Homo sapiens: one gene and its partners. The protein of the gene in region 1 interacts with the protein of each later gene in a pairwise test. Each region holds a gene or a part of one and is shown in the gene's direction. Other genes may lie near its edges. The genes, in order: HSPD1, CHAT, DBF4, BOK, RGS20, MFHAS1 and SAMD3.

Region 1 (3,500 bases):
ACACTCGTCTTGAATAGGTAATAAGCAGTGGTATTTGTTGATTTATATTTCTCGGTGAAAGACAGAATTATTTGTATTGCTGTTTGCAGTTTCCATCATGTGTACCTCCACATTTGATCCAGTTGGGTTTGTATCTAGAATTGTAATTGTGTAAATCAGGTGTGCTCTAATGTATCCTTATGGTTGTGTTTTTGAAGGAACCCCAAAGTCTTTACTATTTTGATCAGCTTTCTCATAGAATAGACTAATTTAGCACATGGGTACCTTTCTGTATTTTGCAAGTGTTTACAGTTGTTTTGAAGGCACATGACTGAATCTTGTATTTTTTTTTTTTGAGACAGAGTCTCACTCCCTGGCCCAGGCTGGAGTGCAGTGGCATAATCTTGGCTCACTGCAATCTCCATCTCCTAGGTTCAAACAGTTCTGCCTCAGCCTCCCAAGCAGCTGGGACTACAGGTGCGTGCCACCACACCTGACTAATTTTTGTATTTTTAGTAGAGACAGGGTTTCACCATATTGGCCAGGCTGGTCTCAAACTCCTGACCTCGTGATCCGCCCGCCTCAGCCTCCCAAAGTGCTGGGATTACAGGTGTGAGCCACTGCGCCCGGCCTTGTAATTTTTTTATTTTTTATTTTTATTTTTGGAGACAGAGTCTCTGTCACCCAGGCTGGAGTGCAGTAGTGCAGTGGCTCAATCTCAGCTCAAGCCTCCGGGGTTCAAGTGTCAATCTTGTTTTTTGTTTTGTTTTGTTTTGTTTTTTTAAGGTTTTTCTGGTTAAAAATATGTAAATTTTCAGAATATTATTTTGCATAGAACAGGGAAGTAAACAACTAACTTCCAAATAACTCAGAGCCAGGCATGGTGGCTCACAGCTATAATCCCAGCACTTGGGGAGGCACAGGCGGGTGGATCACCTGAGATCAGGAGTTCCAGACCAGCCTGGCCAACATAGTGAAACCCCGTCTCTACTAAAAATATAAAAATTAGCAGAGCATGGTGGCGTGTGCCTGTAATCCCAGCTACTCAGAGGCTGAGGCAGGAGAATCACTTGAATCTGGGAGGCGGAAGTTGCAGTGATCCGAGATTGTGCTGCTGCACCCCAGCCTGGGCAACAAAGCGAGACTCTGTCTCTAAATAAATAACTCAGATGTAAGTGTATTTCACCATCGAATATTTTTATTTATTTTGAGAGACAGACTCTGTCACCCAGGCTGGCCTGCGGCGGCACGATCATAGCTCACTGCAGCCTTGAACTCTTGGGGTCAAGCAATCCTCCTGCCTCAGCCTCCCAAGTAGCTGGGACTACACACTTGCACAAGCACACTTGGCTGATCTTTTAATTTTTTTGTAGAGACGAGGTCTCAATATGTTGCCTCAATATGTTGCCTAGGCTAGTCTTAAACTGTTGGTGAATCTTAAGTGATTCTCCCACCTCAGCCTCCCAAAGTGCTGGGATTACAGGCATGAGCCACTACCCTTGGCTGTGATCAAGTATTTAGTCTGTTGTTAAATGTTTACTAAATAGTCTGAAGTAGAGAAAATAGCACCCAATCTAAAATAAGGTGAGGTCTAGTCACTTATTTAAATCTACATTTTAAGCTATAGTTTACTATTAGTTTAAACTTTAAGACAGGTAATGTTCATGCTGCAGACAATCTAAGGGCATTATTAAAATGTTTGTTCTTCCTTATCTCAGAATTGAAGTATGTCAGAAGCAAGACTTTTCTTTCCATTTTGTTATAGTAGAAATGCATACATTAACAGGTACGTTTTAGACATTACACGTGCTCATCTGACCCAAAAGCTCTAATGAGCTGCCTTACCCTGGAATGTTTTTCTTAGCTTGGATTTGCTTTTTTGGAGGGATTAAGAAAAGACTTGGCTGGGCGTGGTGACTCATGCCTGTAATCCCAGCAGTTTGGGAAGCCGAGGCGGGTGGATCATGAGGTCAGGAGATGGAGACCATCCTGGCTAATACGGTGAAACCCCGTCTCTACTAAAAATACAAAAAATTAGCTGGGCGTGGTGGCGGGCTGAGGCAGGAGAATGGCGTAAACCCAGGAGGCGGAGGTTGCAGTGAGCCGAGATCTCGCCACTGCACTCCAGCCTGGGCGACAGAGCAAGACTCTGTCTCAAAAAAAAAAAAAAACACACAAAAAAAAGACTTGAGGCCAGAAAAAAACAAGCCTACAGAGTTTTCATTAAGCCATTTTACTGCTAGTTGAAAAGTGGGATATCCAGTTTACATAGCATATAGCTTATTCCTCTGATTTTTATTTGGGTCCTTAATAAAATAGACCAGCTGTCTTGAAGTTTGAACGTTGCTTCTGTTTCACAATCTGCTCTCAAATGGACATTTGATTACACATTCCAAGTATTCATTTACCTGGTAAAAATTTCAGGTGAGCTTAACAATACTGTCAGCTTTTTGTATAACATTTATAAAAGAAGTGAATTCAGAACATTGCTCATTCAAAACTCAGCATTAATATATGGAGATGTTTATTAAATGACCCTCAAATGTAATATTTAGTAATTACTGTTTTTCTACCATTCATAATAGTTATCACTGTATCCTATAACTTACTGTGATGTGATTTTTGCTGCTCGGCCTCCTGAGTAGTGGGGATTACAGGTGCCTGCTACCACATTTGGCTGATTTTTGTTATTTTCAGTAGAGACAGGGTTTCACCATCTTGGCCAGGCTGGTCTCGAACTCCTGACCTCGTGATCCACCTGCCTGGGCCTTGCAAAGTGCCGGGATTACAGGCCTGAGTCACCACGCCCGGCCAGGCCAACAGTTTATTAAGAAGGTAAACGGATATGGACAAGTATAATTAATAGAAAATAGCCTAAACTGTCTCAGATACTTCCTGTCTTAATTTGATCAAAAATTGCTAGGAAGCAAAAAAAAAACAAAAAAACACAAAAACCAAACCAGATTACTTAGGGAGTCCTAAGTAATCTAGTAACAGCTTGAGGGGAATTAAACAGATAGGCATTTTTATTTCATTTAAATCTTACTATCAACTATTCTTAACAGGCTAAAGGTTGGTCTTCAGGTTGTGGCAGTCAAGGCTCCAGGGTTTGGTGACAATAGAAAGAACCAGCTTAAAGATATGGCTATTGCTACTGGTGGTGCAGTAAGTAAAATAAATGTGATAATGGTTTGCTGAATGTTTATACTTGTCTGGAATTTATAGATAGTTTAACATTTCACAATTAGATACTACAACTATCTGTTTCTTTTGGCTCTTTGGAAGGTAGGGGTTGGATTAAATTCCCGTTAATTTGCCACAAGTCTGGCCTAAGAATGAGCTTACTGACTATTCTATATTGACTAAATCTTATTGACTGAATAAGGGGGTTTCCTTTTTTTTGTTTTTTTTGGAGACAGTGTCTTGATCTGTCTTGACTATTCTTGACTTGATCTATATTGACTATTCTTATTGACTTAAATCTGTGGGGTTTCTTTTTTTTTTTGAGACAGGGTGTCTTG
Region 2 (3,500 bases), on another chromosome or scaffold:
AGCCGTGGCTGCTGGAGTCACCAGCAGTCCTGTAGACTACAGAGCAGGGAACAAGGAGGTGCAGGAGGCCCACTTCTCATCTCCTGTTCTTTGTCCCCAACTACACAGGCCATAACAGGGATGGCCATTGACAACCACCTGCTGGCACTGCGGGAGCTGGCCCGGGCCATGTGCAAGGAGCTGCCCGAGATGTTCATGGATGAAACCTACCTGATGAGCAACCGGTTTGTCCTCTCCACTAGCCAGGTACGGCCCCGTGCAGCTATCGCCCAAGAGTAGTGTAGTCAGTAAGCTTTCTAAAGAGCAGTGACAACAAGCCCACTAGCTGGAATCAGGCAAATCCTGCCTCTGCTTTTTCTGAACTATGTGATCTTCAGCAAAATGATCTGAATGTTCATTAGAAGATGGTTTACTGACCAGGCTTGGTGGCTTACAACTATAATCCCAACACCTTGGGAGGCTGAGGCAGGAGGATTGCTCCAGCCCAGGAGTTTGAGACCAGCCTGGGCAACATGGGGAGACCTCATCTCCCTATTTTTAAAAATTAGCTGGGCATGGTGGTGCGTGCCTGAAGTCCCAGCTACTAAAGAGGCTGAAATAAGAGGATTGCTTGAGCTGGGGAGGTGGAGATTGCAGTGAGCCCTGATTGCACCACTGCATTCCAGCCCAGGTGACAGAGTGAGACCCTGTCTCAAAAAAAGAAAAAAGGAAGAAGAAGGTTTCCCATCTCCTAAATGGGAGTAATCAGCAGACCCTACTTAGCCGAGGTGGAGACAGTACAGGAACATACCCATTCTGGTGCCCTAACCATTACACCTTACTACCTTTCAATCTATTGCCGCGGTTTCCACGGGCTCTGATGCCCAGCAGGTCTGCAGTGAAGTCTTGGCTTGGCCAGATACAATTATGTAGGGAGAAAGCCCAGCCCAGGGCCTGGCATGGACAGGGCCCTCTAAATAGGTCACAGATATTATTATAAAGGGCCACGCAACCAACAGCAGAACATTCGTGGCCAGCCCAACATCTAACCAGTGCCTCAGCGTGTCCTGTATGAGAGCCACTGCCACAAAGACAGAATGCAATCCATTAGAGAGAGGTCGTGGTTTAGGAGGGGAAATGCCCCACAGCCATCAATTTACTAAAATGCCACCTCATCTGCGAAAGGCTGGATGGGCAGTACTGGAGTTGATAAGCTGTGTTTGAGGACAGAAGCCCACTCAGTAATGGGATGTTGTCATTATGGCAGTGAGCATGCAGACGTGAATAAACGAGGACAGAACACAGCACCATAAATTTCTCAGGAAATCATCCATGGGCAAAAAGTGCTTTGGAATGGCTTTATGGCCTTCGGCTATTGCACGGCAAATTTATCTGACAATGTGGTGACTCTATTAGCAAGACTAATGGTTTGTTCTGCCCCATTAAAACAGCCAGTGTCACTTCCAAAGGCCTCAGCACACAGCACCAGAAACCTGTAGGTTTAAAACAAACCAGGCCCTGCACCTGCCCAAGAATCCTTTCTATTTTTTTTCCCAAGGACCAGCTAATAAAATTAATCTGGGGTGTGGGAGTTTTGTTGTTTTCCAACTGGAAAGCAGCATTTATGGCTTGAATGCTTTCAGAAACATACTTTCTTGGTTTGTGATCTGGATTACAAAATCTCAGCACTCTGATTCAAAACATACTAGGTGCATAAGTAAAACTGATGGCAATCTTTGAAACACCCAACTCTGGGTAATTGTGCATGGCCAGGCTGCAGGGAGAAATCAGAGAAGCCAGGCAATACTGACAGTAATTAAGGATCTGGGGGAAATCGACACAGAGGATGGGCCAGATTTCCTCCAGTTCATAAATTCCTCCCTCCGGAAAGCATCTAACTATGGGGTGCCACCAGGGGACCATTTAGTAAATTACCTGATTGCCTCCGTGCCTCAAATGGCCCCCAGGTGAAGTGGAGACTCAGCCCAAGACCTAGCACCAGGTCACTCCGGGAGCTTCCAACTCCACAAGTAGAGCAGATTGCACACCAGGGAGTGGGCTTGGGGCCCCTCATCCTCTGATATCATGCAGTTAGATGGGTCTGTTTTTATGACTCTGGCTGTGTCCATCCATGCTAAAGCAATCACTTGATTTGGTTAATTCAGTCAAACCCCCAGGTGGAAAACAGAGAAGCCAAGCCCAGTCGAGGCTGGCGGGCTGCATTCCAGAACAAGCAGCTCCTGACCTGTCCTCTCCTCCAGGTGCCCACAACCACGGAGATGTTCTGCTGCTATGGTCCTGTGGTCCCAAATGGGTATGGTGCCTGCTACAACCCCCAGCCAGAGACCATCCTTTTCTGCATCTCTAGCTTTCACAGCTGCAAAGAGACTTCTTCTAGCAAGTTTGCAAAAGCTGTGGAAGAAAGCCTCATTGACATGAGAGACCTCTGCAGTCTGCTGCCGCCTACTGAGAGCAAGCCATTGGCAACAAAGGAAAAAGCCACGAGGCCCAGCCAGGGACACCAACCTTGACTCCTGCCACTAGGTTTCACCTCCCAAACCCAGCCTCTAGAACAGCCAGACCCTGCAGATCCCCACTCCCGTCCCTTACCCCAGCTTTCCACAGCTCCCTGTCCTCAGGGTCCAACTCACAGACCATACAGAGACATCACACAGAGCCGGAGTGTTAGGAGGAAAGGGTCCCCTCTTCATGCATGGGAATCATCATTTTCAAGGTGGCTTTGGGCCTGCACACTGGGAAATGGGACCTGCCTGGCTCAGAGGCAGCCTGGATGCACTGGGGAACCACACTAAGGACTCCTTCTGTGGTCCTTGGAAGCTTAGTGTTCATGTCTCCTTCCCTAGCAGGACCTAGTATGTCCAGGTGATGCTTCTGCCCAAGGAAAGGATGAGTCACTCTATTACATGCAACGTACCTAATGAGTTAGGAAGGAAGAGGCTAACTCCAGGTCATTACCTCTTTTCTTTTTTGGGGGAGAGGAGGCTGTGTTTTGAGATTCAGAGCATTCTTATCGTGGCATTCCCAGTGTCTCCACTGAGCCGTACAGTCCTACAAGCACCCACTCCTCCCACACACACCACAGAGCCCAAGTCCATTTAAAATATAGTGACTTGGGCCCACAAACACATTTCTGCTTTCGTGCCCAGGGGCAGCCTTCTGTTGAGCTCAGAAAATTGTGTCCAGCTATTCTGAAAGGAAAAAAAAATTTATCTGTGACTGCCCTGGAGTTGCTGCCACTCTCTGCTTAGCAGGCGGCATCAGGGCCAGTCCAAGATGAGTAAACTGCACAGCCCCAAGCAGATGGTGCCTGGTGCCGGTGGGTTTGCAGAGGACCTGGCCCCTTCCCGGGGTCCTGCCATTTGCATTTTTTCTGCATCTTTTCCCCTCTCCTCCCCTCCTACATGCTCCAGTAGGTGAAGAGAGATGGTTACTTTGGGTTTTTCCATTATCTGTTTTGTTTTAAGACAGAGATTTTTAAGAAAACCACCCTGACATTAATT
Region 3 (3,500 bases), on another chromosome or scaffold:
ATTTATTATTCACAATAGCTAAAAAGTGTGAACAGCCTTAATGTCCAACAAGTAAATAGATAAAGAAGAGGTTGTATATACATACAATAGAATATTATTCAGCTTTAAAAAGGAATGAAATTCTAATACATGCTACAACATGGGTGAACCACAAAAAACGTGCTAAGTGAAGGAAGCCAGTTACAAAAGAACAAATGTAGGATTCCATTATATGAGTTATCTAGAATAGCCAATTTCAGAGATGGAAAGTAGAATAAAGGTTATGAGGGGCTGGGAAAAATGAGGAATGAGGAGTTACTGTTTAATGGGTACAGACTTTCAGTTTGGGATCATGGAAAAGTTATAGAAATGTTTTAGTAGTGATGGTTGCATAATGTGAGTGTACTTACTGCCGTTAAATTGTACACTTAAAAATGGTTAAAATGGCTAATTTTATATTTATCACAATAAAAGTGTATAGGAGATCGGGTTTCTTATGAAAAATTAGAACCTCTGACATTATTAGGGCCTCATATTTATGAAAATGAAGGCAGTATTTGATGTGTGAATTATTTGTATTATTGCCTGGCCCTTATAGGCATTTGAGTCTAATCCCTGGAATAAATAAATGTAGGTACATTATTTACTGTTCAATGAAAATGAATGTTGGTCGGAAAAGAAATGATTTGCACTTAACCAAGGAGGCCACTGGTCTCAGTAGCAAATGCTGCTTAATGCTTAGATGAAGTTAACTTATCTGTTACACACTTCATTTTTATTATCATTTATAGTGTGGGATCCTATAGAAAATAGATACAGCTATTTAAAATATTCTGAGAAGTCTTTCATGGATGTAAATTGTTACTGCTTATTAATGATTCACAGTTTACTTCTGCTTAGTGGGTATTTATAGTATACATATTTATACTATGTATTTTTCTAATAATATTAGTAATTCTACTTAGTATTTACTTCTCCCTATTTTTATTTTCCTGACCCTGGCGATCTTTAATAACCTTCACTTTGGTACATGTCTTTATAAGTAAATTCAGATACTTAGGCGGTGGTTTTCAAACATTTTAGTAAAGAAATTCTATTCAAACAGTCTTACACTCTTAAGCGTAAAGGTTCCCTCCATCCTGTAAGTTGAAGCCTCAAGGGAAGGTGTAATAATGATTGATTTAGACTTGTATTGTCTGCTATGGTAACCATTAGTGATATGTGGCTATTAAATTTAAAGTCTTTAAAATCAAATTTAAAAATCAGTGGCTTGAGCTAGGCGCAGTAGTGTGTGCCTGTACTCTCAGGTACTTGGGAGGTTGAGGTAGGAGGCTCTCTTGAGCCCAAGAGTTCAGGGCCAACCTGGGCAACATAACAAGACCCCATCTCTTAAGAAACAAAAAATTCAGTGGCTTAATCACACTACCAAGGCCATTTCAAATGCTTTGGTAAGTTGTATTGGACACTGCTGCTTTAGATCATGGGCTTGAGTCAGAATGCCTATGTTCAAATTATATTATTTGCTACTGGGTAACATTAAGCAAGTCACCTCTCTTCACTTTTTATCCTGCAGAAAATGTAGATAGTATCATGAGGCTGTTCCATAGATTAAGTTAATTAACATATATAAAGTATTTAAGAATAGTATCCAGCACATGCTGCTGTTGTGCTGTTATAGGAGCTCTTATACTTCCTCAGAGATCTAGGTTCAGAAAAATACAGTATAAAAACCACCAATTTACGAAATAATTGCATCAAATTGAAATTTTTTACTGTGCTTGGCATATGAAACAGTTTATGGTTTTTATGACCTAGTTGAAAATACCTTGGTGGCATGTGCCTATAGTCCCAGCTGTTCAGAAGGCCAAGGCGGGAGGATCACTTGAGAACAGGGGGTTGAGGCTGCAGTGAGCTATGATTGTGCCACTGCACTCTAGCCTGGATAACACAGTGAGACCGTGTTTCTTAAAACAAATTTATAAATAAAAATACTTTGTTCTCTTCTAGCGAGTTGAAGAATTTCTCAGCAAAGATATCAGTTATCTTATTTCAAATAAGAAGGAAGCTAAATTTGCACAAACCTTGGGTCGAATTTCTCCTGTACCAAGTCCAGAATCTGCATATACTGCAGAAACCACTTCACCTCATCCCAGCCATGATGGAAGTTCATTTAAGTCACCAGACACAGTAAGTCTCTTAAATATGCTTTGAGACTCAGAAGGGCTATATCCTGAAGATCTCCTGGTTTTTAATAGCAAGGTGGCAGTAGAGTTTACTTATGTAGAACATTTGCAAAGCCACATGATGTGTGGCTCTCTAGTCCTCAATAAAGTTGCTGTCTTTTAGGAAGGTGGGTTTTTCCTAATAGTTCTTGTGTAATCATACTCTGATTGCTTAGGTATACCCTTGTATTTAGGGATGGCGTGTAGTTTTTAGAATAATTTACAACTAAAAAGTTAAGAGCAGATCATTCTTTGAAGAAGAAATAGAAACCTTTTTAATTTTCAGAGCAGGGGTCAGCAAACTCTGGCCCATGGGCCAAATCTAGTCTGTTGCCTTTTTTGTACAACCTGCAGGTTAAGCATGGTTTTTACATTTTCAAATAGTTGTGTAAAAATATCAAAAGAATATTTTGTGACAAGTAGAAATTTTATGACATTCAGATTTCATTGTCATAATGTTTTATTGGAACACAGCCATACCTGTTTGTTTAGGTATAATCTGTAGTTGTTGTGTTTTAGGCAGAATTGAATAGTTGCTGTAGAGACCATATGGCCAACAAAGCTTAAAATGTGTACTGTCTGGTCCTTTGCATAAAAAGGTTGCCAGCCCCTATTCTAGAATTATTGAAATCACATCCCTACCACTCCATGGCCAGTAAATTGAAAGATGCAAGGAAAGACAAATTAAATTGATTTAATTGGGTGTGAGGTGGGATAGGATCAAATGAGAGATAAAATGTTTATTTCAGTTTTTAGGTTGAAGTGTAATTAAGTTATTATTTTACAATATTCTCCTCGACTTACCTATTATAGCCATTTGAAAATTAAGGAAAATGAGGAGAAAACAGAAGAAATGAGTCAGAAAGGAGCTATCACTTGAAAAAAGAGATACAATACATAGAAGAAAGAATGGAAAAGAGATCAAGAAAGGACCATGCATTCTCTGAGTTAATGCTTTTTTGGAGCAAGGAGACAATACACCAGCGATTCCAAAATAATTGTTGGTTATGGCATTTCAACGAGTTTTCCTAGTACTTTATTTAAAAAGTGAAGTAACGGCTGGGTGCGGTGGCTCACGCCTGTAATCCCAGCACTTTGGGAGGCTGAGGTGGGTGAATCACGAGGTCAGGAGTTCAAGACCAGCCTGGCCAACATAGTGAAACCACATCTCTACTTAAAAAAAATACAAAAATTAGCCGGGCATGATGGTGCGTGCCTGTAGTCCCAGCTACTTGGGAGGCTGGGGCAGGAGAATCACTTGAACCCGGGAGGCAGAGGTTGCAATGAGCTGAGATCACA
Region 4 (2,943 bases), about 44 Mb from region 1:
CACATTTGTATCCATTTATCTGTTGAAGGATACTTGGGTTCTTTCCACCTTTTGGCAATTGTGAATTGGCTGCTGTGAATGTCTGTGACTGAGTGTTTGTTTGAGCTGATTTATGTTTTCATAACAAATCCAGGTTGGCCGCTGTATGAGGGTGGATTGGAGAGCAGTGCTTCATCTTTGCATGTACAGTGTCCTCAGGCTAACTCCCTCCAGGGACCACTGCTGACTCCCTCCGGGGACCGCTGCTAACTCCCTGCGGGGATCACTGCTGGGCTGCATGTTTTGTGGCCATTCAGATACTGCCAGTGCCCTCAAGCTGGGCTTCCCACCAAGGTTTACAAGGCTGTGCAGTGGCCTGAATCCTCACACTGCCATTTAAAAGCATGTATTTATTTATTTATTTAGAGACGGGGTCTCGCTCTGTCGCCCAGGCTGGAGTGTACTGGCGCGATCTCAGCTCACTGCAACCTCCGCCTCCCCGGGTTCAAGTGATTCTCCTGCTTCAGCCTCCCGAGTAGCTGGGATTATAGGCGCGTGCCACCACGCCTGGCTAATTTTTTGTGTATTTTTAGTAGAGACGGTTTCACCATGTTGGTCAGGCTGCTCTTGAACTCCCAACCTTGTGATCTGCCCGCCTCGGCCTCCCAAAGTGCTGGGATTCCAGGCGTGAGCCACCGCGCCTGGCGTAAAAGCTTTTAATGCAACAGATTACATTTTGTTTTAATTTGCCTTTCTTTGGTTATTAATGAAGGTAAACATTTTTCGTGTCTCTTATTATAATTTTCTTTTGTGAATCAGCTGTTCCAGTTCTGTGCTCATAGTTCTTTTTTGAAAGCCTCTCTTTTCTCGCTCACGTATAAGACGTCTTTCCGTGTTGAGGCGTCGTGTCCTGCCTTTTATTCTTTCCCCCGCTGTCACCATCTTTCGTCCTCTCTTTCAAGGCTGCTCCCATCTCAGTTCAGCCTCAGCAGGTTAGGGGTCTGGGGAAGGCAGTTTCTCTGCGGGCCTCAGCTTCTTTATGTGTAAAATGTGGACGCCAGGCCTGTTGTGGGAACAGGCAGCCCAGGGGTGCCACCCGTGAGGTCACTGGCTGCTCACTCCATCTGCTGCTGCCCTCAGTTCCCTCGCCTCACCCCACGTTGTCCCTGCGGCCTCCTGCACAGACGTGGGCTGGGCAGGTGTGCAGTGGAGGCCGAGAAACCTGCCTGCCCAAGAACTACCTGACAGGCATCCTGTCAGGGAGCGGTCCCCCCTTGGGACGGTCCCTGGTCATTAGCTGGACGGCAAGCAGGACAGCGGCTCAGAGAGGCCCAGCCCCTTCCTTAAGTGCTCCCGTGGGCGGGATTCAAGTCCTGATCTTGACCATCTCTCTCCCTGCAGGCATCACGTGGGGCAAGGTGGTGTCCCTGTATGCGGTGGCCGCGGGGCTGGCCGTGGACTGTGTGAGGCAGGCCCAGCCTGCCATGGTCCACGCCCTCGTGGACTGCCTGGGGGAGTTCGTGCGCAAGACCCTGGCAACCTGGCTGCGGAGACGCGGCGGATGGGTGAGCGCCTGAGTGCCCGTGTGGGTGGGAGAGCTGGGGTGCGAGGGTGCAGAGGTACAGGAGGGAGTGGTGGATGGGTGAGCCTCTGAGCGCCTGGGGGGTGGGAGAGCTGGGGTGCGAGGGTACAGACGTACGGGAGGGAGTGGCGGATGGGTGAGTGTCTGAGCGCCTGGGGGGTGGGAGAGCTGGGGTGCGAGGGTGCAGAGGTACGGGAGGGAGTGGCGGATGGGTGAGCCTCTGAGCGCCTGGGGGGTGGGAGAGCTGGGGTGCGAGGGTACAGACGTACGGGAGGGAGTGGCGGATGGGTGAGTGTCTGAGCGCCTGTGGGGGTGGGAGAGCTGGGGTGCGAGGGTGCAGAGGTACAGGAGGGAGTGGTGGATGGGTGAGCCTCTGAGCGCCTGGGGGGTGGGAGAGCTGGGGTGCGAGGGTACAGACGTACGGGAGGGAGTGGCGGATGGGTGAGTGTCTGAGCGCCTGTGGGGGTGGGAGAGCTGGGGTGCGAGGGTGCAGAGGTACAGGAGGGAGTGGTGGATGGGTGAGCCTCTGAGCGCCTGGGGGGTGGGAGAGCTGGGGTGCGAGGGTACAGACGTACGGGAGGGAGTGGCGGATGGGTGAGTGTCTGAGCGCCTGTGGGGGTGGGAGAGCTGGGGTGCGAGGGTGCAGAGGTACAGGAGGGAGTGGCGGATGGGTGAGTGTCTGAGCGCCTGTGGGGGTGGGAGAGCTGGGGTGCGAGGGTGCAGAGGTACGGGAGGGAGTGGCGGATGGGTGGTCACCTGAGCACTCCTGGGGGAGATGGGTGAGGCAGGGGGTGGGGCAAGGGCCGAGACCTACAGGCAGGCCCTGGACTCTCCTCTGCCCAGATCCAGCACTGACTTACCCCCGATCCTACCCCTGTGCTAAGGACCCGCTGCCCCAGCCCCCGCCCTCCCGAGTGGGAAAAGCAAGGCCCCGAGGGGTGGGTGTCAGAGCCAAACCCTTCCTCTGTCTCCACGCCCCCAACTTCCTGCCCTGCTCCGGCCAGACCGCAGTTGCCGCTGGGCCCTGGGTGTGGAGGGTGGCTCCCCTGCCGAGAGTCTAGCCTTCTTTCCTGTACAGCGGGTGTTGGCCTGGTGTGTAAATCAGCGGCCAGGGGTGACAGCGCTCAGACCCCTCTGCTGGGGCCTTAGCTTTAGCATCTCGAGAGATTGAGGTCACGTGGTCTGCGGGGGCTGTGGTCTCCTCTGAAGGCTGAATTGGGGGTGCAGAGGGCAATGTCCCAAGATGTCGCACATGGCTACAGGTGTCCCTCAGCACAGAAACCCCAAGACTTCCGTCCCCTCCTGTCTTCCTCCTGTGGAGTCTGGCATGGGGCTGGGCACTGTGTGCCCAGTGGGCGACGACACTTTGAGCAACGCCAAGG
Region 5 (3,500 bases), on another chromosome or scaffold:
GGGACACCCAAGAAATAACAACAGGCTGCATCTGTCTAGCTCTCAAGGGGTTTATGCTCAGATCCCTCAAATCAGGCCAACGTGTGTTAAACAACTAAAGAACAACCTCAGGCGGTTCACGATTGACTATCAACATTTGGGCAGAAATGGTTAGAAAGAATTGGACTCGAGGCACTCCTGTGGTAATGAAGGCTTAGGATCTAAGATAGGTCTTAAAGGTTAGGGCGATGAAGTAGAGGGAGCCTGGATTTTACCTTCTGCTGCTTCCATTTCATAAATTTTGTTTTGTAATAAAGAGAAATGTCAAAATATGTGTTTTAAAGAGAGAGAAATATTAAAATATATGCTAACTTACTGGGTAGAGGAAGACACACAGACAGTCATTGCTTTAAAAAGGAAAGAAACGACTTGAATGTAAAACATCTGTGACCCTTTGAGTAGCTGTTAAAGGTCTGGAGAAAAGGAGATAATTTACACCTAAAAATCATGGGAACTTTAGGTTACATCTTTGGAATCTTGGATATGAAAAGTGCTTAGTGCCAGCCAAGTTTGTGAACCACTTTCAGCAATCAAATCATCCTAAATTTATGTAGGCTTGGCAGTAAGTTAGACCAAGACCTCACTGTCTGCTGGAAGAGAAGAAAAACTGATAATGGACTGATCACGAACCGTGAAATGGAACTAACAGAACTGATCCCTGGGGAGGAGAGTGGAGTTGAAAATGAAATGCCCGGGGAAGTTTGGTGGCTCCTGCCCAACTCAGGCTAGTATTCATTTCCAAGAAGTTCCAATCTGGTGGAAGGGACACAGCAATAGAACATCCACCAAGGGGATCCCGATACCGATGGTCTCTTCATTCCCACAGCAAGAGGAAACGTGGCCATGGGGCTGACAAGAGCTAGGCAGTGTCAAGGTGAGACTTCAGCCCCTGGTAGGAATCTGGACAGCTCTGCAGGAAGCCAGAGGAGAGGCGCTGGTGGTGGGCAGAGGAAACACGTGGGTGTCCAGGGCCTGCCCTAAAGGAGGAAGACACCAGTGATGGCCAGACTGCATTTAGGGGCCTATATTCTCACTCTGCCAGTAGGTCTCAGTGGGGAAATGAGACCATCCTCCTAGAGATGTGCAGGATGTCCAGGTGCAGGTGAGACTCCAGCTGACGTTCAAACCTTCCGCTCCCTCCTTTCTCTGCTGCCTCACGCAGGGTGTGGGAGGCGGCTGACATGCTGACCTGAACAACGTATTGTCCCGGGATAGTGTAAGGCTAGAGGGCGGGTCAGGTCCCAGAGCAGGCTCCTCCTACAGGTAACAAGTAGGACGAATAAAATAAGTATCTGTACCTAAGACACTATCATCACCATCATAGCCAACACTTCTGTAGTACTTAGGTGTGTGTAGAAGAGACAATAGAGCAATATCTTCAAAGTGCTGGAGAAAAGTAACTGAAAACTCCGTCAAACCATAATTCAAGAGTGTGGGTAAAATAAGACATTCTCAGACATACGAAGGCCAACCGAGTTTACTGCCTGCAAACCTAAAAGAACCGAAGAAAGGGCCTACTTCAGAGGAAAAAAAGGGAACCCAGAGGAAAGACTCAGGAAACAAGTAACAATCATAGATACAACGGGGTCAAATATTGATATAAAATGTGGCAATGAATTTTGTGTTAAAAAGTGTGAAACCAAAGCTGTAAACAATCTCATGTCAATGACATACAATCAAATAATTCAGACTTTCTTAGAAAAAATTATTAAAAGAAAATTTTCTTTCAAAAGTAATGTTATTCATAATTAGTCCAAAAATACACCCTATAGTTTTAACATCAGTGAAAGACAATAAATCTAGAAAACCTTACCAACACGTGATAAAAGTGACATCAGCAAAGGAGAAAATGAACTATTCAGTAAATAGCAGGATACTTGGTATTTGGGTACCAACTCATCCCCACTGATAGGACTTTCTCAGTTTTAGCACTGAAAGGTCCCATAGCCCAGAAAACCTGAAAACCCTAGGCAAACCAGGAAAATTGGTCATCCTGCTTGGTATCCAAATATATAAAAATGTATTTATATTCCTACATAGCACCATATACAAAAATCAATTCCCACCTTAAAAAAAAGATCAGCTGGGTGCGGTGGCTCACGCCTGTAATCCCAGCACTTTGGGAGGCCGAGGCCGGCAGATCACATGAGGTCGGGAGTTCGAGACCAGCCCTACCAACATGGAGAAAACTCGTTTCTACTAAAAATACAAAATTAGTCAGGCATGGGGGCACATGCCCATAATCCCAGCTACTCAGGAGGCTGAGGCAGGAGAATCGCTTGAACCTGGGAGGCAGAGGTTTCGGTGAGCCGAGATTGCACCATTGCACTTCAGCCTGGGCAACAAGAGCAAAACTCCATCTCAAAAAAATAAATAAATAAAAAATAAAACACAAAAATTAGCCAGGCATGGTGGCGCACACCTGTAGTCCCAGCTACTCAGGAGGCTGAGGTGGGAGGATCGCTTGAGCCCAGGGAGGTTGAGGCTGCAGTGAATGATGATTGTGCCATTGCACTCCAGTGTGTGTAACAGAGTGAGACTCTGTCTGAAAAACAAAAACAAAAAAAAAAGAAAAGAAAAACCTATACCCTGGAAAAACTTCTCACACCCCTGCAAAAAAAGGAGACATGTATGAGAAGATTCACTACAGCATTCATCTGAGTGAGAAAAATTTAAAATGGTTCTAAAGGGTATAGACAGGAGAATGGATGAATATATTGTGGTATAGTTATACAATCCACTACCATACAGCACTTAAATTCATATACTAGAAAAACAAAACTAAACAAATAAATAAGTTAGGCGTGGTGGCTTATGCCTGTAATCCCAGCACTTTGGGAGGCCAAGGCAGAAGGATTGTTTGAGCCCAGGAGTTCGAGACCAGCTGGGGCAACACAGCGAGACCATGTCTCCACTAAAAAAAAAAAAAAAAAAAGTTAGCCCGGCATGGTGGCATGTGCCTGTAGTCCCAGCTACTCTAGAAGCTGAGGTGGAAGGATCACTTGAACCCAGGAGTTCAAGGCTGCAGTGAGCTATGATCATGCTACTGCACTCCAGCCTGGGCAACAGAGTGAGACCTTGTCTCAGAAATAAATAAATTCATATGCTAGAGGGAAAAAAAATTATAAAGCAATACATGTTACATAATTACATTTATACTATGTTTAAAAATATGTTTATGAATATAATATAGTAGCATAATTATGAATTGGAATGGTAAACAGTAAGTTAAAAATGGTGGCTCTCTCTAGGGTAAAGAGAGGAAGAAATGAGATGGGGAAAAGTACACAGCAAACTTCAACTGTTTTAATAGTGAATTTCCTTGTTTTTTTTCACCACACTTTTGAGATTTATCCATATTAATATACATAGTCAAGTCAATTTTCAAGAAAAGTAAATGGCAATTTCTTTTCTAAGTACTTGTGAATCTTTCTCAACATTTTGCTGTAAGGCCTTCTGGT
Region 6 (3,500 bases), on another chromosome or scaffold:
TTTTGAGATGGAGTCTTGCTCTGTTGCCCAGGCTGGAGTGCAGTGGAGTGATCTTGACTCACTGCAACCTCTGCCTCCTGGATTCAAGCGATTCTCCTGCCTCAGCCTCCCAAGTAGCTGGAATTAGAGGCATGCGCCACCACACCTGGCTAATTTTTGTATTTTTAGTAGAGGCGGGGGTTTCGCCAGGTTGGCCAGGCTGGTCTTGAACTCCTGACCTCAGATGATCCACCCACCTCAGTCTCGCAAAGTGCTGGGATTATAAGCGTGAGCCACTAGGCTTGGCCACCTTTGTCTTTTTAAGAAGTCATTTTGCTTCTGGGGACATTAAAAATTGTTTACTTTTATGTTTTATAAAAGCGTTAAGTTGTCCTATAAACTATAACAATTTTATATGCAACGCTGAAAAAGTTGGACTTTGAATTTTCTTAACTTTGGGATGTTACAGTAAAAGTAAATAGTAAATTACTGTCTCTCTTGATTTTATACAGAAAAAATGTATAAAGTTGCACTAATATCTTTTAAAGTATTTTTATGTGAAAAGCCTATTTTGGCCTTGTCCTGTTGGATTTTCTGGCCTGAGCTGCCCTACTGTAGTTGACCACGGGAAGTATAATGGTAAATTTCTCTTTTCTTATTTTGGTTTATACAAGAAAAGTAATGGGCAGCGTGCAGTGGCTCAGGGCTGTAATCCCTTTGCTTTGGGAGGCTGAGGCAGGAGGATCACTTGGGTCAAGGAGTTCGAGACCAGCCTGAGTAATGTAGCCAGACTCCGTGTCTACAAAAAAAAATAAAAAATAAAAATCAGCTAAGCGTGCACACTTGTGGTCCCAGCTAGTTGGGGGGCTGAGGTGGGACAATCACTTGAGCATGGGAGTTTGAGGTTGCAGTGAACTATGATTGTGCCATTGCACTCTGACCCTGTCTCTTAAAAAAAAAAAAAGAAATGATTGGAAAATGCACATCCAGCAATCACTAGTTTCATAGTTTTTTGTAAAAATAAATCACATTGTCAGAGAGAAGACCTATTTGTCTTATTTAAAATAGGTAATCTGACAACGTGATTATCTTTTTAAGACATCTTATTTAAGACAAATGGGTTGAGTGACAGGAGATTCTTTTGGAAACTCGGAGATGGCCTATGATGAAGCCTAAATGTCACTGTGAAAGTCTTGACCTGCTTTCTCCATCCTGGCCAACATCCTAGCCTGGTCAACCTGGTGAAACCCCATCTCTACAAAAAATACAAAAAAATTAGCTGGGCATGGTGGCTCATGCCTGTAATCCCAGCTCCTGGGAAGAATGAGGCACGAGAATCCCTTGAACTTGGGAGGCGGAGGTTGCAGTGAGCTGAGATTGTGCCACTGCGCTCCAGCCTGGGCGACAGGGCAAGACCCTGGCTCCGAAAAGAAAGTCTTTACCTGCTTCCTGCAGGTACCCTTTCTTTTTTGCAGACTTGCTGCCCATAGCTGGTAGCCAGGATTCCCTTCCTTTTGCTGTTTTCCTTCTCATTGGTTGGTCCTGTATACTTGTCTTAGAGCAAGTTTCTTCTTGTGGGATATTTGTTTATGCTTTTATTCTGTTCTACCAGTATGACCTCTAAACTCAAAGAGTTGGTACTCTTGAAGTTGAGTGAGGGTACATTAAGATGTGGTGGTTAGGACACGGGCCTGCAGCAAGATTCAAGTGCTTTGATATTCCTTTTAAGCAGATGAGTGAATACTGTGTTTTTGAATTGGAAGAGTGTGTCTTAGTGAGTTAAACTTGCATTGACTGCAGATTTTCACTAAATATCCTACTCTCCAAATTATTTAAGGTCATTTTAAAAAATAAGGAGAAAGCAACCCAAATCAGTAGACAGAATGAGTTATGTGGCTTTCTTTAGCTTTACTGTCTTTCATTTACTCAGTAACTTGATGCCTTTTTGTATCTCATGCCAAATGTCTTCTGTCCCTCAGTTTCTTGCACACGGAGTGTACCTCTCCGACAACACAGCATATTTGACTTGTTTTGTTGGTGTTTGGTTGCGTCATGATATATCTTTGATTAGGTTGTTCACTTGCTGCTTCTGAGCCAGAGACACACCCGAGACTTAGTAGCTTCTGCAGAGCCTCTCAGATGTTTGCTGAATGATAGTTTGGTCTTTTTGTGAGAAATAACTTTTTTTTTGGGGGGGTGGGGGCAGGGTCTCACTCTGTCACCGAGGTTGGAATGCATTGGGGCAATAATGGCTTACTGCAGCCTCGACCTCTTGGGCTCAGGTGATGATCCTCCTACTTCAGCCTCCTGAGTAGCTGGGACTCCAGAAACACCCTACCATGCCTGGCTAATTTTTGTGTTGTTTTGTAGAGACAGGGTTTCGCTGTGTTGCTCAGGCTGGTCTCAAAGTCTGCCTGCCTCAGCCTTCCAAAGTGCTGGGATTATAGGCTTGAGCCACCATGCCCTGCCTGAGAACTATCTCTTTTTCTTTGTTATTCACACACTCAGTGAAAATCCCAGGTAGTATTGTAATGATTATCTGGCTTTGTTTAGCTTCCCAACTCCCTCCCCCTCACAGTGTTCCTCCAGCATTCCCATTGTGCGTCTATGACTGGTCTTACCCTTGAATGGGTCCTTCATTTTGACCACTGAAGCAAAGCAAAATTCTTGCCTTATTATATCTAAGTTTTAGAATTACTGGAATTTGAGCATGACCTAGTTGTTTGGATTGAATTAGTCATTGTTTTTAATTTTACAAAGGTTTTTCAATATCTCTTTGGTTAAGCTTTATTAATATTGATGCTTCTTGGCTTTTCTTTTTATGAATAGGCCTCTGAACTCCCTGGGACTTTGTTTTATGTAAAAATCAAAACCTTAATCAGGCACTAGGATAAACAAATACTGTGCAGAATAGAGTTCTAGAAGGCTAGAAAGGCCTTTGGAGTATTTGAATTATTTTAAATATTAGGTGCCTCTTCTTTAAACCCTGGAATAGACTCTTAAGTCCATCTCTGCACAAGTAGTTTAGAATTTCCTAAAGTATTTTTTCTTTAATTTTTTTTTTCTTTTTGTGTGTGTGTGTGTGTGTGTGTGTGTGTGTGTGTGTGTGTTTGTGAAATAGAGATAGGGCCTTTTTATGTTGCCCAAGCTGGTCTTGATCTCCTGGCCTCAAATGGTCCTCCCCACTCAGCCTCCCAAAATGTTGGGATTAGAGGCGTGAGCCACCATACCCAACCAGTATTTTTTATTTAGTGGATATTTTATGTCATACTCTGAGGTTATTCCCCTTTGTCCGTGAAGAGGTGAGGGGCTTTAACTCTGTATTATAGGAGGGGAATGAGTGGGGAAAGGAGGAATTGGACATTTCTGTTTTTCTTCTCATCTACCTATTAACTTGCTTCTATCCATGGGAGCCCTTTCTTTTTTTTTTTTTTTTTTTTTTTTGAGACTGAGTCTCGCTCTGTTGCCCAGGCTGGAGTGTAGTGGCGCTGTCTGAGCTCATTGCAACCTCCACCTCCTGG
Region 7 (3,500 bases), on another chromosome or scaffold:
ATATTTTTCTTCTGAGCAAAGGGAAATAAGAATTGCCTGTATTATTTTAATAGAAACATAAGTAGCAAATATCTGAATGCTTCTCTGTAACAGCATGTTCTCAGTGCTTTCCACGGATTAATCTACCTAATCCTCTCAGCAACCATACTGTGGCTTTCGCTTGTTTCCCCTTAATCTTCAGGTTGTAAGGAACTGTAATAGCCAGTCATCTCTGGCTGTTAGAAAAGTATGCCAAATGGACACATCTGCAAAATACAGTTTTAAAGCAAAAGCCTGTCAAACTTACGGTCTATACACTCCTTACATGTAGGGAGCACGTGTTAATATTAACAGTTCCCAAAGTGCCTAGCAGAGCACCACGTGTGACACAGCAATGTAATCTTGATTTTGTGAATGCTGAGTGAATTAGTGGAGGTTGGTAAGGCTGTTGTGATCACTAATGTCGTAGCCTTAGGGGTCTTCATTGGAGTGTGGCCTACAAAGGCTTAGTGATGAATATAAATGGACTATGTTAAGCAGCTTTTCAAAGAACCATTGGTGACAGTAAGGTGGAGGTCTGTCATAGCTTATGTGAGGAGCAGAGAGATTTCAGACCTGATGCTGTCCCCTGTGCTTTTGTCCAGGCCTCCTGCTGTGGCATAGGTGTATCTTCCGCACCATTCCTCAAGTATTTCACCCTTTATATCCAAAATATGGAGTATGGTTTTTGTAATGACTGTACTTATTGAATAGAGTTGCCTGTTGATTGTTTTATTTATTTATTTATTTATTTATTGAGACAGAGTCTTACTTTGTCGCCCAGGCTGGAGTGCAGTGGCACAATCTTGGCTCACTGCAGCCTCTGCCTCCCAGGTTCAAGTGATTTTCCTGCCTCAGCCTCCCAAGTAGCTGGGACTACGGATGCACGCCACCACGCCTGGCTAATTTTTATATTTTTAGTAGAGATGGGGTTTCACCATGTTGGTCAGGCTGGTCTTGAACTCCTGAGCTCAGGTGATCCACCTGCCTCAGCCTCCCAAAGTGCTGGGATTACAGCTGTGAGCCACCGTGCCCGACCTGATTGTTTTAGACAAAAGAACGAATCATTTTCGGTTTTTCCAGGAAGTACCTCCCTGACTCAGCCCTAGGCAGCTGGGATTTCCAATTTATAAAACTCTTGTGTGCCTCCTAAAATAAAAGCAAGTTTGACCTCGCAAATACCTAGTTAACAAATGATCCCGTAAGAGGACAGTTGTCCCTGCACCAAACCACCCCCACCGCCTGTTGCTCCTGCCATTGTGAAAACACTGAGTGCTTAGGGAGCTGGTGGAGACAGGGTGGCAGAACAGCAGCAGCCGGGGTGGGCGGTGGTCCTGGCTGTTAACACTGACCCCCCATCACCTCCATGCTCATTAACCTCCTTCCTCAAAAAACTTTCTTTCAACAAGGCATTTAAAAATTCAGAATGTAACCATTTACTTTATTAGATTATCTAAAATATTATCAACTAGGAATGTGTTACTGGGATCTACTGGATGTTGCACAAGACAAGTAGGAGGGAGTTGAGAAGGAAAATACCAAACACAAACTGAAACCCTTCCCCAAATTTTCCAAAAAATCCTTTCAGATGCCATAGTTTCTGCCTTCCTGAGAAACAATTTCAATCATCATCTCTTTAAGTGAAGTACGTGAGAATCGCCAGCTAATAAAGTCTCAAAAAATTAAAAAAATCGGCCAGGCATGGTGGCTCATGCCTGTAATCCCAGCACTTTGGGAGGCCGAGGCGGGCAGATCACCTGAGGTCAGGAGTTCGAGACAAGGCTGACCAACGTGGAGAAACACTGTCTCTACTAAAAATACAAAATTAGCCGGGCGTGGTGGCACATGCCTGTAATCCCAGCTACTAAGGAGGCTGAGGCAGGAGAATCGCTTGAACCTGGGAGACGGAGGGTGCGGTGAGCCGAGATTGCGCCACTGCACTCCAGTCTGGGCAACAAGAGTGAAACTCCGTGTTAAAAATAAATAAATAAATAAATTTAAAAAATAAAGAATTTGAGTTTGGTTTTGGCCCAAATGGAGTAACTGGTACTGGTCTAGTCTTCCCACTGTTAACATGGATAAAGCTGGAAAAAAAAAATATGTATGAGGCAACTGCACTCAGGCATTAAGGTACAGGCAATGCAGGACCCTGATCCTTGGTAACGGAAAGACATAAGATGTGCCTCAGTTTTGTGCATGGGTTACTTTCTAGCTCACTGTACAGAATGGTGGGAGGCAAGCAGCATGCGGAGGTCTCATGGAGCTGCACAGGAAGAGATTAAAGTTGAGGAATGATGAAGCAGCTGGCCTTTGTAGGACAGGCACTGGAGGAAAGTGGGCTGGGCCGAAGTCTACACACGGATCCCCTGGGGATCCTTGGCTGAGAGCCGAGACTTCACACAGTGTTGCTAATAAGAATTCAGGCTAGGTGTGGTGGCTCACGCCTGTAATCCCAACACTTTGGGAGGCTGAGGCAGGCAGATCACTTGAGGTCGGGAGTTCGAGACCAGCCTGGCCAACATGGTGAAACCCTGTCTCTACTAAAAATACAAAAATTAGCCGGGTGTGGTGGCACACACCTGTAATCCCAGCTACTCAGGAGGCTGAGGCAGGAGAATGGCTTGAACCTGGAAGGCAGAGGCTATAGTGAGCCGAGATTGTGCCACTGGACTCCAGCCTGGGCGATGGAGTGAGATTCTGTCTCAAAAAAAAAAAAAAAAGAATTCTGGCCCAGTGTGTAGAGACCCTGCAGAACACCTCAGCATTCATCTGAGACTCCAGAAAACAATGCCTCATGAGTGAGAACCATGCCTAAGTTTGAGCCAGGACCTTAGCTAGGACTAAGGACAAACAACAAAACAGAATTGCCGAAAGAAATGATAAAATCAAGTCTGACAGGACCAGAAGATCCACCATAATTTATCTGCCTATCAGAACAAAATTTAACACCCTTTAAAGGAACATAATTTAATCCAGACTCCCCACTAGTGGATCACTAGAGGTTACAGTGAGCGGCGCCATTCCCATTTCCAACTCTTGGTTCCTGGACCCATGAATTCTGGCTATGGAAGAAACTGCACTGTATGCTGGATGCTGATTCAGAGCTTATACAGCCTGGGAGAACCTTGTCCCAGCCCCACAAGGTATTGCCACCTAGCTGGTGCTGTAACTGAGTCTTCAACAGGCCACTCCACCAGTCTGGCAAGCCAGCTGCTTCAGGACAGGACGGTGGGGAACAGGATAAGACCAGTAAATTCCATGTATCATCACCATAGGGAATCTCAGCAGAGAAATGAAATACACGCACACACACACGCGCGCACACACACACACATGAACCAAATTGAAATTCAGAGCTGAAAAGAACAGTTATCTGAAATGAAAACATCACCATGTGCGTAGGCTTAAAAGCATATTGGAAAATGAAAAGAAAGGAGCTGTGAATCTGCAGATAGATTAATAGAAATTATCCAGTCTGAGTA

What was found.
Region 2: the proteins of HSPD1 (region 1) and CHAT interact in binary tests that used the Homo sapiens proteins (3 or more experiments, as listed by UniProt).
Region 3: the proteins of HSPD1 (region 1) and DBF4 interact in binary tests that used the Homo sapiens proteins (3 or more experiments, as listed by UniProt).
Region 4: the proteins of HSPD1 (region 1) and BOK interact in binary tests that used the Homo sapiens proteins (3 or more experiments, as listed by UniProt).
Region 5: the proteins of HSPD1 (region 1) and RGS20 interact in binary tests that used the Homo sapiens proteins (3 or more experiments, as listed by UniProt).
Region 6: the proteins of HSPD1 (region 1) and MFHAS1 interact in binary tests that used the Homo sapiens proteins (3 or more experiments, as listed by UniProt).
Region 7: the proteins of HSPD1 (region 1) and SAMD3 interact in binary tests that used the Homo sapiens proteins (3 or more experiments, as listed by UniProt).

The regions. Positions count from the first base shown.
Region 1 is NC_000002.12:197,489,841-197,493,340, reverse strand, and holds part of HSPD1 (60 kDa heat shock protein, mitochondrial), read left to right. Parts: coding exon 1-17; intron 18-3,044; coding exon 3,045-3,144; intron 3,145-3,500. UniProt on the Homo sapiens protein: Chaperonin implicated in mitochondrial protein import and macromolecular assembly. Together with Hsp10, facilitates the correct folding of imported proteins.
Region 2 is NC_000010.11:49,662,537-49,666,036, forward strand, and holds part of CHAT (choline O-acetyltransferase), read left to right. Parts: intron 1-108; coding exon 109-246; intron 247-2,240; coding exon 2,241-2,510; 3' UTR 2,511-3,500. UniProt on the Homo sapiens protein: Catalyzes the reversible synthesis of acetylcholine (ACh) from acetyl CoA and choline at cholinergic synapses.
Region 3 is NC_000007.14:87,882,993-87,886,492, forward strand, and holds part of DBF4 (protein DBF4 homolog A), read left to right. Parts: intron 1-1,986; coding exon 1,987-2,166; intron 2,167-3,500. UniProt on the Homo sapiens protein: Regulatory subunit for CDC7 which activates its kinase activity thereby playing a central role in DNA replication and cell proliferation. Required for progression of S phase.
Region 4 is NC_000002.12:241,568,745-241,571,687, forward strand, and holds part of BOK (bcl-2-related ovarian killer protein), read left to right. Parts: intron 1-1,380; coding exon 1,381-1,544; intron 1,545-2,943.
Region 5 is NC_000008.11:53,939,872-53,943,371, forward strand, and holds part of RGS20 (regulator of G-protein signaling 20), read left to right. Parts: intron 1-3,500. UniProt on the Homo sapiens protein: Inhibits signal transduction by increasing the GTPase activity of G protein alpha subunits thereby driving them into their inactive GDP-bound form.
Region 6 is NC_000008.11:8,883,631-8,887,130, reverse strand, and holds part of MFHAS1 (malignant fibrous histiocytoma-amplified sequence 1), read left to right. Parts: intron 1-3,500. UniProt on the Homo sapiens protein: Probable GTP-binding protein. Functions in innate immunity and more specifically the inflammatory response as a regulator of the Toll-like receptor TLR2 and TLR4 signaling pathways.
Region 7 is NC_000006.12:130,149,952-130,153,451, reverse strand, and holds part of SAMD3 (sterile alpha motif domain-containing protein 3), read left to right. Parts: intron 1-3,500.